2 separate regions of the Homo sapiens genome follow, and region 1 is linked to region 2. Evidence: fine-mapped expression QTL. A gene starts in region 2. The other region holds a variant in brackets. All regions are shown on one strand. Distances are from middle to middle. Region 1 has its middle 12 kb from the start of EIF4B. Region 2 holds the start of KRT18 (keratin 18).

Region 1 (5,371 bases), 46 kb after region 2:
GGCCATAACTGGGAAAGTAAATTACTGGGTCAGAAGCTAATAAAGAAATGTCAATGTTGAATAGGAAATGTGTGAAGAAAAGGAGATAGAGTCAAGCCATGAGAAAGAATCATTAGAGCCAAGAACAGTGGCATATGCCTATTGTTCTAGCTACTTGGAAGGCTGAGGCTAGAGGATTGCTTGAGCCCAGGAGCTCAGCCTGGGCAACATAGCAAGACCCAGCTCTTAAAAAAGAAAAGAAAAGGCCAGGCGCGGTGGCTCACACCTGTAATCCCAGCACTTTGGGAGGCCGAGGCAGGCAGATCACGAGGTCAAGAGATCAAGACCATCCTGGCCGACAAGGTGAAACTCCATCTCTACTAAAAATACAAAAATTACCTGGGCATACTGGCAGGCACCTGTAATCCCAGCTACTTGGGAGGCTGAGGCAGGAGAATCACTTGAACCCGGGAGGCAGAGATTGCAGTGAGCTGAGATCGTGCCACTGCACTCTAGCCTGGCGACACAGCAAGACTCCATCTCAAAAAAAAAAAAAGAAAGAAAGAAAGAAAAAGGAAAGAAGGAGCCATTAGGCCCCTAACAGTGTGTACTTATGCTGTTGGGGGACAGGTAGGACTGACAGCTTAAAGAACATTCTGAGGCTGGGCACGGTGGCTCATGCCTGTAATCCCTGCACTTTGGGAGGCTGAGGTGGGCAGATCACCTGAGGTCAGCAGTTTGAGACCAGCCTGGTCAACATGGCAAAACCCTGTCTGTCTCTACTAAAAATACAAAAATTAGCCGGGCATGGTGGTGGGCACATGTAATGCCAGCTGCTTGGGGGAAGCTGAGGTTTGAGAATCACTTGAACCCAGGAGGTGGAGGTTGCAGTGGGCCGAGATCACGCCACTGCACTCCAGCGTGAGGGATAGAGTGAGACTCTGTCTCAAAAAAAAAAAAAAAAAAGAACATGCTGGGGCTACACTCCAGCATTTAAGCTAAAGCTAGAAATACATGGTTGAAAGGTTGAAGGCATTCACTGAGCTCACCAGGAGCTTTGACACAAAGATAGGGTCTTTGCCCCCATCTGAACAGGAGTGACAACAGAAGCTTTGGGAATTGATAAGTCACTAAGGAAAACAGGGCAGGGCACAAGTTGCAACTGGTGGCCCATGGGCTAAATTGGCCCCAGGTGTGCTTTATTTGGGCTACACAGGGTTGTGATTTTTTGAATTAACTATCCACTTTTAAATGTTGGACTATTTCACCAAAAAAAAATCCATATATCTAGTTTATCTTGAAAAACTGGAAGATCTGGTAACGTTGGGCCCTATTTCAGTTGACAATGAGAGTCAGGGTTGAGTTGTGACTGTCACCTTTAAAGAAAGTACATAGAGTAGGCTAGGCGACAATGACAAAATATCAGCAACTTAACACAATGAAGATTTGTTTCTTGTTCGAGCAAAGTCCAGGGTGAATCAGGCAACTCTCCAGGGTAGCTTTCTTCCTTGCAATGACTCAGGGATCCAGGCTGCACATATCTCATGACTCTGCTATTCCAATTTACGCTCTGGATGATCCCTTCAGGGAGCCGGAGCTGAAGGGCTGCTTTGTGGCACTTACATGCTTCCAACACAAAGTGAAATGGTACTTGAACTAACCGTCCATTTGCTGAAACTAGTCCCAGGACCCTCATCAGGGGCCTGAGAAACGTGGGGCAGCTCATGGATATTGGGTGAGCAGTAAATGTTTCTGCCACATGGAACATGTGCTCTGCAGTTTGCCACATGCTTGCCAGGCTGCTTAAATCATTCACATCATCTACCTGGCTCCTGGAGACACTGGCATTTGCAGCCTTTGGTACAAAAAGAGAGGAGTGCTGAGGAGAGAACCTTGTGGAATGCCACCAGGGAGCAGCCATCACAACAGAACCCTACACTAGCCCAGTGTTTCATGCCAAGGTTCTGTCTGTAAGTGACAGAACCTACCCCTGGGAGGTGACCTGGCTATATCTTTCATATCTCCTGGTCACACTGCTGAGGGGGTGCCTGCTGCTTCTCCACAGATGAAGATTCAAAATGTTCTTGTGTTACAACCTTTGCATATTTCAAATTCCTTAGAGTCAAAAAGGCTATTCTGAATTCTACCTACTTTCCTTCCCCCTATATTGCATTTCTTCTCTTTACTCTTGCTCTGCATAGCTCCTAAAGACTGAACTGGAGCAAAAACCTGCACAGTAGGCTCTGGATAGTACCAGTTCCCATGTAAAATGTTCAGGAAGACCAATTTATGTGATTTTCCTGAAAAGTGTTTGTTTGTTTGTTTGTTTGTTTGTTTGAGACGGAATCTCACTCTGTCGCCCAGGCTGGAGTGCAGTGGCGTGATCTCGGCTCACTGCAAGCTCCAACTCCCGGGTTCACACCAGTCTCCTGCCTCAGCCTCCCGAGTAGCTGGGACTACAGGTGCCCACCACCACACCCAGCCAATTTTTTGTATTTTTAGTAGAGACGGGGTTTCACCGTGTTAGCCAGGATGGTCTCGATCTCCTGACCTCGTGATCCGCCCGCCTTAGCCTCCCAAAGTGCTGGGATTACAGGCGTGAGCCACCGCACCCGGCCTTATTTATTTATTTATTTATTTATTTATTTATTTATTTATTTGAGATGGAGTCTTGCTCTGTCGCCCAGGCTGGTGTGCAGTGGTGCAATCTCGGCTCACTGCAACCTCCACCTCCCGGGTTCAAGAGATTCTCCAGCCTCAGCCTCCTGAGTAGCTGGGACTACAGGCGAGCATCACCATGCCTGGCTAATTTTTGTATTTTTTAGTAAAGA[C/T]GGGGTTTCACCATATTGGCCAGGATGGGCTTGAACTCCTAACCTCATGATCCGCCCACCTTGGCCTCTCAAAGTGCTGGGATTACAGGCATGAGCCACTGCACCCGGTCTTCTTTTTAATTTATTTATTTTTTAACTTTTTTTTTTTTTTTTTTTTGAGATGGAGTCTTACTCTGTCACCCAGGCTGGAGTGCAGTGGAGGAATCTCGGCTCACTGCAACCTCCACCTGCTGGGTTCAAGCAATTCTCCTGCCTCAGCCTCCTGAGTAACTGGGATTACAGGTGCCCGCCACCATGCCCGGATAATTTTTGTATTTTTTCAGCAGAGACGGGGTTTCGCTATGTTGGTCAGGCTAGTCTCGAACTCCTAACCTCATGATCCGCCCACCTTGGCCTCCCAAAGTGCTGGGATTACAGGTGTGAGCCACCACGCCCAGCCTTCTTTTCATTCATTTATTTGTTTGTTTGTTTGTTTGTTTTTGAGACAGGGTCTTCCTGTCACCCAGGTTGGAGTGCAGTGGCAATCACAGCTCAGTGCAATCTCGAACTCCCGGGCTCAAGTGACCCACCCACCTCAGCTTCCTGAGTAGCTGGGACTATGGGCACACACCACCACGCCCAGCTATTTTTTTTTTTTTTTTTTTTTTTTTTGTAGAAATAGGATTTCACCATGTTGCCCATGGCTGGTCTCCAATACCTGGGCTCAAGGGATCATCCTGCCTCGGCCTTCCAAAGTGTTGGGATTATAGGCATGAGCCACCACGCCTGGCCCAGTTCCCACTATGTTTTAGCTATAGTTGTATGTATTACATTTAAATACATTATAATTCCCCAAGACCATGTTCTAATATTTGCTTTTGGCAGTCAAGTGTATTTCAAATAAATTAAGAGGGGCAGGGCATGGTGGTTTATGCCTCTGTAATCCCAACACTTTGGGAGGCCGAGACAAGAGAACTGCTTGAGGCCAGGAGTTCGAGACCACCCTGGGCAACATAGTGAAATCCCAGTCTCTACCAAAAACATATAAAAAATAAAAATAAGCTGAGTGTGGTGGCACACACCTGTAGTCCCAGCTGCCTGGGGGGCTGAGGTAGGAGGATTGCTTGAGCACAGAGATTTAAGGCCACTGCACTCCAGCCTGGGTGACAGAATAAGACCTTGTCTCTTAAAAAAACACAGGGCCAAGCGCAATGGCTCACACCTGTAATCCCAGCACTTTGGGAAGCCGAGGCTTGATCACTCGAGGTCAGGAGTTCGTGACCAGCCTGGCCAACACGGTGAAACCCCATCTCTACTAAAAATAATCTGGGCGTCGTGGTGTGTGTGCCTGTAATCCCAGCTACTCAGGAGGCTGAGGCAGGAGAATCGCTTGAACCTGGGAAATGGAGGTTGTGGTGAGCCAAGATCGTGCCACTGCACTCCAGCCTGGATGACAGAATGAGCTTACAACTCAAAACAAAAAAAAAAAAAAGGCCCACAGAAAAGCAAATATGCGTATTATAGGGTTTTGGGGTTTTTTTGGTTTTTTTTGTTTGTTTGTTTTTGAGACAGAGTTTCACTCCTGTTGCCCAGGCTGGAGTGCAATGGCGTGATCTTGGCTCACTGCAACTTCCGCCTCCTGGGTTCAAAGCAATCCTCCTGTCTCAGCCTCCTGAGTAGATGGGATTAAGGGCGTCTGCCACTACACCCGGCTAACTTTGTATTTTTAGTAGAGATGGGGTTTCTCCATGTTGGTCAGGCTGGTTTTGAACTCCTGACCTCGGGTGATCCATCCGCCTTGGCCTCCTAAAGTGTTGAGATTACAGGCGTGAGCCACCGTGCCCGGCCTGTAGTATTTTTAATAAATAAATCATAAATAAAAATAATTTTGAAAAAGAAATTAAGACGAAAATATGCCTTTTACACTTACCTGGTAACCTACTATATAAATACTCTTTATTCCTTCCTAAATATATGCATTTCCCTCTGGTATCATTTCCCCTTAGTTTGAAGAACTTCCTTTAGTTTGGCTGTAATACAGTTCTTTCTTATCTTTTATTTTTTTGAGACGAGTCTCATTCTGTTGCCCAGGCTTGAGTGCAGTGGCGTGATCTTGGCTCACTGCAACCTCTGCCTCCCAGGTTCAAGGGATTCTCGTGCCTCAGCCTCCTGAGTAGCTGGGACTACAGGTGTGCACCACCACACTCAGCTAATTTTTTGTATTTTCAGTAGGGACGGGGTTGCCTGTTGCCCAGGCTGGTCTCAAACTCCTGAGCTCAGACAGTCTGCCCAACTCAGCCTCCGAAAGTGGTAGGATTACAGGCGTGAGCCACCTTGCCCAGCTGGCTTAAATACAGTCTATTGGCAATGAATTCTTAGTTTTCTTGTATCTGAATATGTGTTTATTTTGCCTACGTTTTTTTAAAAACAGCTTTGAGATACAGTTAACATACCAAACAATCCACCCATTGAAAGTATACAATTGGCCAGGTGTGGTGGCTCACACCTGTAATCCCAGCACTTTGGGAGGCTGAGGTGGGTAGATCACCTGAGATCAGGAGTTCGAGACCAGCCTGGCCAAC
Region 2 (5,371 bases):
TGGAGGCCGAGACCTTCACCCCAGCTCTCCAAGAGGCTCTCTGACAAAGTGAAAAAGCCCTGAGCCACAGAGGAATCTGGAAGTGGTGGAAAGGGGCAGGCTGGTGCTGGAAGCCCGAGGTCGGTATTTGCCCCATGCTGCAAGAAGTCAGGAATGTGGCCATCGACATCAGTAGGAGAGATAAAGTCTAGCTGGCAGCTCTCCCTCTCCAGCCCCCACGCTGCACCTCCACAGGTCCCAGAAGTTTCCTAGCAGTTGGGGTGGGGCAGGAATCAGACAAGGACCTGGGAATTAGCTTGGAGAAAAATTCTAGAATCTGTTTTGATTGCTGGTAGATTTCAAAGTGCCCCAGGGTTTTTAAATGACTCAGAGAGACAGACTTCAAACCCCTTGAGCCCGTCTTTCGAATTAAATTGACCCCCTTTATCTGCCCTCCTGTATATATTGAAGCCTTCCTTACTTTGAAGGAAGGCTCCAGTACAAATAATTAGTATTTGTTTGATGAATGAGTGAGTGACAATTTACACTCACATTCACTGCCACCTGAGGAAATAGACTGGACAGGTCTTACTGTTTTCCCTGTACAAGTGAAGAAATTGAAGTTCAGAGTTAGGTGACTTCCCCAAGGTTACACAGCTAGCAAAGTATCCAGGCTGGCTGACTTAAAGCTTAGCAATAACAGTAAAAGGCAGTACGTAGCTTGTTGACTCCACATACTTTATTATAAAATACTGCCCAACTTGACAGTTCTGGAATCCAGTGGGGGAATATAAAGGTGAAAGCAGGAGAGACCCCTCTGACTGGAACCTCTTACCTCCCAGAAGCCTTGTATGCAAAACCAGTGGGCATTCATTTGTATGTTATTTTGCATCCCGTTTGCCTCCCAGCCTTCAGCAGGCCCCGACCCTCCCCTGGCCAGCTTCCACCCTGACTGCCCCCTGGCTGGCTCCCATTGAGCACTGTGGGGCTCTCCCCACCATTAGGTGACAGATCAGGAACAATCCAGGCTCAGGCTCTTTATCTGTGCTCTGCCTCCCACCTGGCAGGTCCACTGGCCAGGCTTTTCCAGGGTCCCTTCTCTCCCAGGTCTGCCCTACTATTTGTCCTCCCCTTCCCCCTCAGCTGGTAGCTCGATAAGAATCAATAGGTCCACTCCAGAGCAAAGAACACAGCCAAATGTGTCATACCAGGCCCTGCCAGAAAAACGAGCTGCTGGAGCTGACAAACTTGAAGGCCAAACACCTAAGGGTTCCCCCCAACACTTCATTCAGCAGGGATGGTCATTCAGCTTCAGGGGGCAGGCAGCATGAAAGCCTCCCTACCTCCATCCTTCTCACACAGAGGCTGGGGAGAGCATCTTGGAGGATGCAGTCCCCTGGGGCCAGGCTTCTAATCCAGACAGCCCTTACAAGGGGGGACAGGGGAAGGACTGGCTTGGAGAAAAGTCCTAGAAAAGAGGGGAGGGGCACTGGCCACCAGGGCTGGGTCGCTGCTATGATGGTCCTAGGAGTGCCTGCCTGTCCTCTCAGGCCCCATGCGATGTAGGACACATTACTTTTATTTATTTATTTATTTATTTATTTTGAGTCAGAGTTTCGCTCTGGTTGCCCAGGCTGGAGCGCGACGGCACGATCTTGGCTCACTGCAACCTCTGCCTCCTGGGTTCAAGCGATTCTCCTGCCTCAGCCTCCTGAGTAGCTGGGATTACAGGCACACACTGTGCCTGGTTAATTTTTGTATTTTTAGTAGAGAAGGGGTGTCACCATGTTGGTCAGGCTGGTCTCAAATTTTTTTTTTTTTTTTTTTTTTTTGAGACAGAGTCTTGCTCTGTTGTCTAGGCTGGAGTGCAGTGGCATCGAACTCTTGACCTCAAGTGATCCACCCGCCTCGGCCTCCCAAAGTGCTTGGATTACAGGCATGAGCCACTGTGCCCGGCGATGTGGGACACATTATCATCTCTGTGAGAGATTTTTGGTCTCTTTTGTCACCGCCCTTCTCTCCCAGCTCCTAGAACTGGGCCTGGCTCACAGTAGGTGCTGAATGCATACTGGTTGAATTGTAAATGCTCAGGATTTGTTTAATTAAGGATGCAGGAAAGGTGATATACCGGTGTGCAGAAGTCAGGATGCATTCCCTGTCCAAATCACAGTGTTCCACTGAGGCAAGGCCCTTGGGAGTGAGGTCGGGAGAGGGGAGGGTGGTGGAGGGGGCTCAGAGACTGGGTTTGTTTTGGGGAGTCTGCACCTATTTGCTGAGTGAATGTATGTGTGTGTGCATTTGAGAGCACACCTCTGTATGATTCGGGTGTGAGTGTGTGTGAGGAAACGTGGGCAGGCGAGGAGTGTTTGGGAGCCAGGTGCAGCTGGGGTGTGAGTGTGTAAGCAAGCAGCTATGAGGCTGGGCATTGCTTCTCCTCCTCTTCTCCAGCTCCCAGCCTTTCTTCCCCGGGACTCCTGGGGCTCCAGGATGCCCCCAAGATCCCCTCCACAAGTGGATAATTTGGGCTGCAGGTTAAGGACAGCTAGAGGGACTCACAGGCCATTCCACCCGCACACCACCAGACCCCCAAATTTCTTTTTTCTTTTTTTTTTTTTTTTTTTTTGAGACAGAGTCTCACTCTGTCGCCAGGCTGCAGTGGCGCGATCTCGGCTCACTGCAACCTCCGCCTCCCAGGTTCAAGCGATTCCCCTTCCTCAGCCTCCCAAGTAGCTGAGACTACAGGCGTGCACCATCACGTCCGGCTAATTTTTTGTATTTTAGTAGAGAGGGGGTTTCACCATGTTGGCTAGGATGGTCTCGATCTCCTGACCTCGTGATCCGCCCACCTAGGCCTCCCAAAGTGCTGAGATTACAGGCGTGAGCCACTGCGCCCGGTCAAGACTCCCAAATTTCAAACTCGCCAGCACCTCCTCCACCTGGGGGAGAAGAGCATAATAACGTCATTTCCTGCCCTGAAAGCAGCCTCGAGGGCCAACAACACCTGCTGTCCGTGTCCATGCCCGGTTGGCCACCCCGTTTCTGGGGGGTGAGCGGGGCTTGGCAGGGCTGCGCGGAGGGCGCGGGGGTGGGGCCCGGGGCGGAGCGGCCCGGGGCGGAGGGCGCGGGCTCCGAGCCGTCCACCTGTGGCTCCGGCTTCCGAAGCGGCTCCGGGGCGGGGGCGGGGCCTCACTCTGCGATATAACTCGGGTCGCGCGGCTCGCGCAGGCCGCCACCGTCGTCCGCAAAGCCTGAGTCCTGTCCTTTCTCTCTCCCCGGACAGCATGAGCTTCACCACTCGCTCCACCTTCTCCACCAACTACCGGTCCCTGGGCTCTGTCCAGGCGCCCAGCTACGGCGCCCGGCCGGTCAGCAGCGCGGCCAGCGTCTATGCAGGCGCTGGGGGCTCTGGTTCCCGGATCTCCGTGTCCCGCTCCACCAGCTTCAGGGGCGGCATGGGGTCCGGGGGCCTGGCCACCGGGATAGCCGGGGGTCTGGCAGGAATGGGAGGCATCCAGAACGAGAAGGAGACCATGCAAAGCCTGAACGACCGCCTGGCCTCTTACCTGGACAGAGTGAGGAGCCTGGAGACCGAGAACCGGAGGCTGGAGAGCAAAATCCGGGAGCACTTGGAGAAGAAGGGACCCCAGGTCAGAGACTGGAGCCATTACTTCAAGATCATCGAGGACCTGAGGGCTCAGGTAAGGGGTAGGAGGGACCTCAACTCCCAGCCTTGTCTGACCCTCCAATTATACACTCCTTTGCCTCTTTCCGTCATTCCATAACCACCCAACCCCTACTCCACCGGGAGGGGGTTGGGCATACCTGGATTTCCATCCGCGCACCTAGCCACAGGGTCCCTAAGAGCAGCAGCTAGGCATGGGAGGGCTCTTTCCCAGGAGAGAGGGGGAAGGGGACAGGGTTGAGAGCTTTACAGAGGAAGTGGACAGCATGGAGGGAGGTAAGGAAAGGCCTGTAAAGAGGAGGAGACACTGGCTCTGGCGGAATGGGGACTATTGGAGGGTTAAGCGGATGTGGCTAAGGCTGAGTCATCTAGGAGTAAACAAGAGGCCTTCCTTTGGGAGGAGCCAATCCAGGGTGTAGGGGGCCCAGAGTGACCAGGTGCACTAGGGAAAAAATGCCAGGAGAGGGCCAGGAAGAGGACTTGTTAGTAGCGACTCACTTCTGGGCAGGCAGGCCAGCCAGCTAGCCAGCCTGCTGAGGCTTCCCAAGAGGGGCAGAGTGCTGGGATCTGGGAATCCAGGAAAGGAGGGAATGGGGTGGGGCTAGATGAAAAGGGATAGGTGTCCAGGGAGAGCCTCTGGCTATTCCTGGGACCAGGAAGTTTTCACTAGGATACATAACACTTTTTACACACTCACCCCACCCATCCCTGGCTTTCTATTCATGGAACAACCTCTCTCTACAATCCCTCCAGATCTTCGCAAATACTGTGGACAATGCCCGCATCGTTCTGCAGATTGACAATGCCCGTCTTGCTGCTGATGACTTTAGAGTCAAGTAAGTTTGGGGGCTAGAGAGCTGGGGGTCCAGGGGTGGAGCTAAGAAGGATCTGCTCCCCAGGCTGGGTCAGTTAGGGGCTCACAGTGGGATCCTGTTAGGTGTGGGTGGATGAGAGTCAGGGTCCATCAGTGTATTCATTTAACTGTTCATTTGTATAACCCCGTTTAAGAATACTGTCCTCCAAGTGCCAAGAATGGTGCTCAGGGGATTACCACCTAATTGCTGACTCAAGTTGCTGGTTTGCAATGGGCACAGAACTTCTCTTAGTAGGTGGCATGAGTTGAGAAGGTTCTGGATCAGAGATAGGGGCCCCTCTGATCACCTCCACTCCTATAGGTATGAGACAGAGCTGGCCATGCGCCAGTCTGTGGAGAACGACATCCATGGGCTCCGCAAGGTCATTGATGACACCAATATCACACGACTGCAGCTGGAGACAGAGATCGAGGCTCTCAAGGAGGAGCTGCTCTTCATGAAGAAGAACCACGAAGAGGCAAGCAGGGGCCACTGGCCAGGCCAGGGATTGAGGGGCCAAGAGAAGTCTGGGTCGGAGAATAGACAAGACAAACCAACTGCAAGTAGCCTTGCTAAGACGTTTAGAAATAGCAGCCTGGGCTCTTCTTAAATAAGACCGTTCTGATGAAGAGCATTCTCAGGGGGTCGAGTACACCCTGGCTCACCTGAATTACAGGTCAAAATGATATGGGTTAGAAAATGAGATGAGAACAGAAGTAGAAGCAGCTAACACTAGGAGCTGGGGGTGATAAAGGAATGACAGCAGATGGAGTTGGCAGCGCTTCCTAAAAGATGGTAGAAGGAGCAGGTTTGTGAAGGGGAGGGTGGATAAAGGAACAGGGTGAAGTTACAGAGA

Evidence for each region. PIP is the estimated chance that this variant, and not a neighbour inherited with it, causes the effect.
Region 1: its variant is fine-mapped to the expression of KRT18 in esophagus mucosa (GTEx, PIP 0.98).

What each region holds. Positions count from the first base shown.
Region 1 is chr12:52,991,754-52,997,124 of GRCh38, forward strand. No RefSeq gene overlaps it. Among named protein-coding and RNA genes, the nearest start is that of EIF4B, 12 kb to the right of the region's middle. The variant C/T (reference allele first, on the strand shown) is at 2,811.
Region 2 is chr12:52,945,914-52,951,284 of GRCh38, forward strand. It overlaps KRT18 (keratin 18), which reads left to right and starts at 3,205. Exons shown (of 7, transcript NM_000224.3): 1 at 3,205-3,677; 2 at 4,415-4,497; 3 at 4,837-4,993. The coding sequence starts at 3,261. It also overlaps a transcript of KRT8 not described here. RefSeq lists enhancers at 2,537-2,911, 2,600-3,193, 3,194-3,787, 3,611-4,810, 3,722-4,376 and 2 more, silencers at 1,172-1,466, 1,852-2,146, 2,904-3,023, 3,034-3,113, 3,154-3,203 and 3 more, promoters at 2,793-2,872, 2,793-2,803, 2,881-2,963, 3,173-3,234 and a cis regulatory region at 2,881-2,963.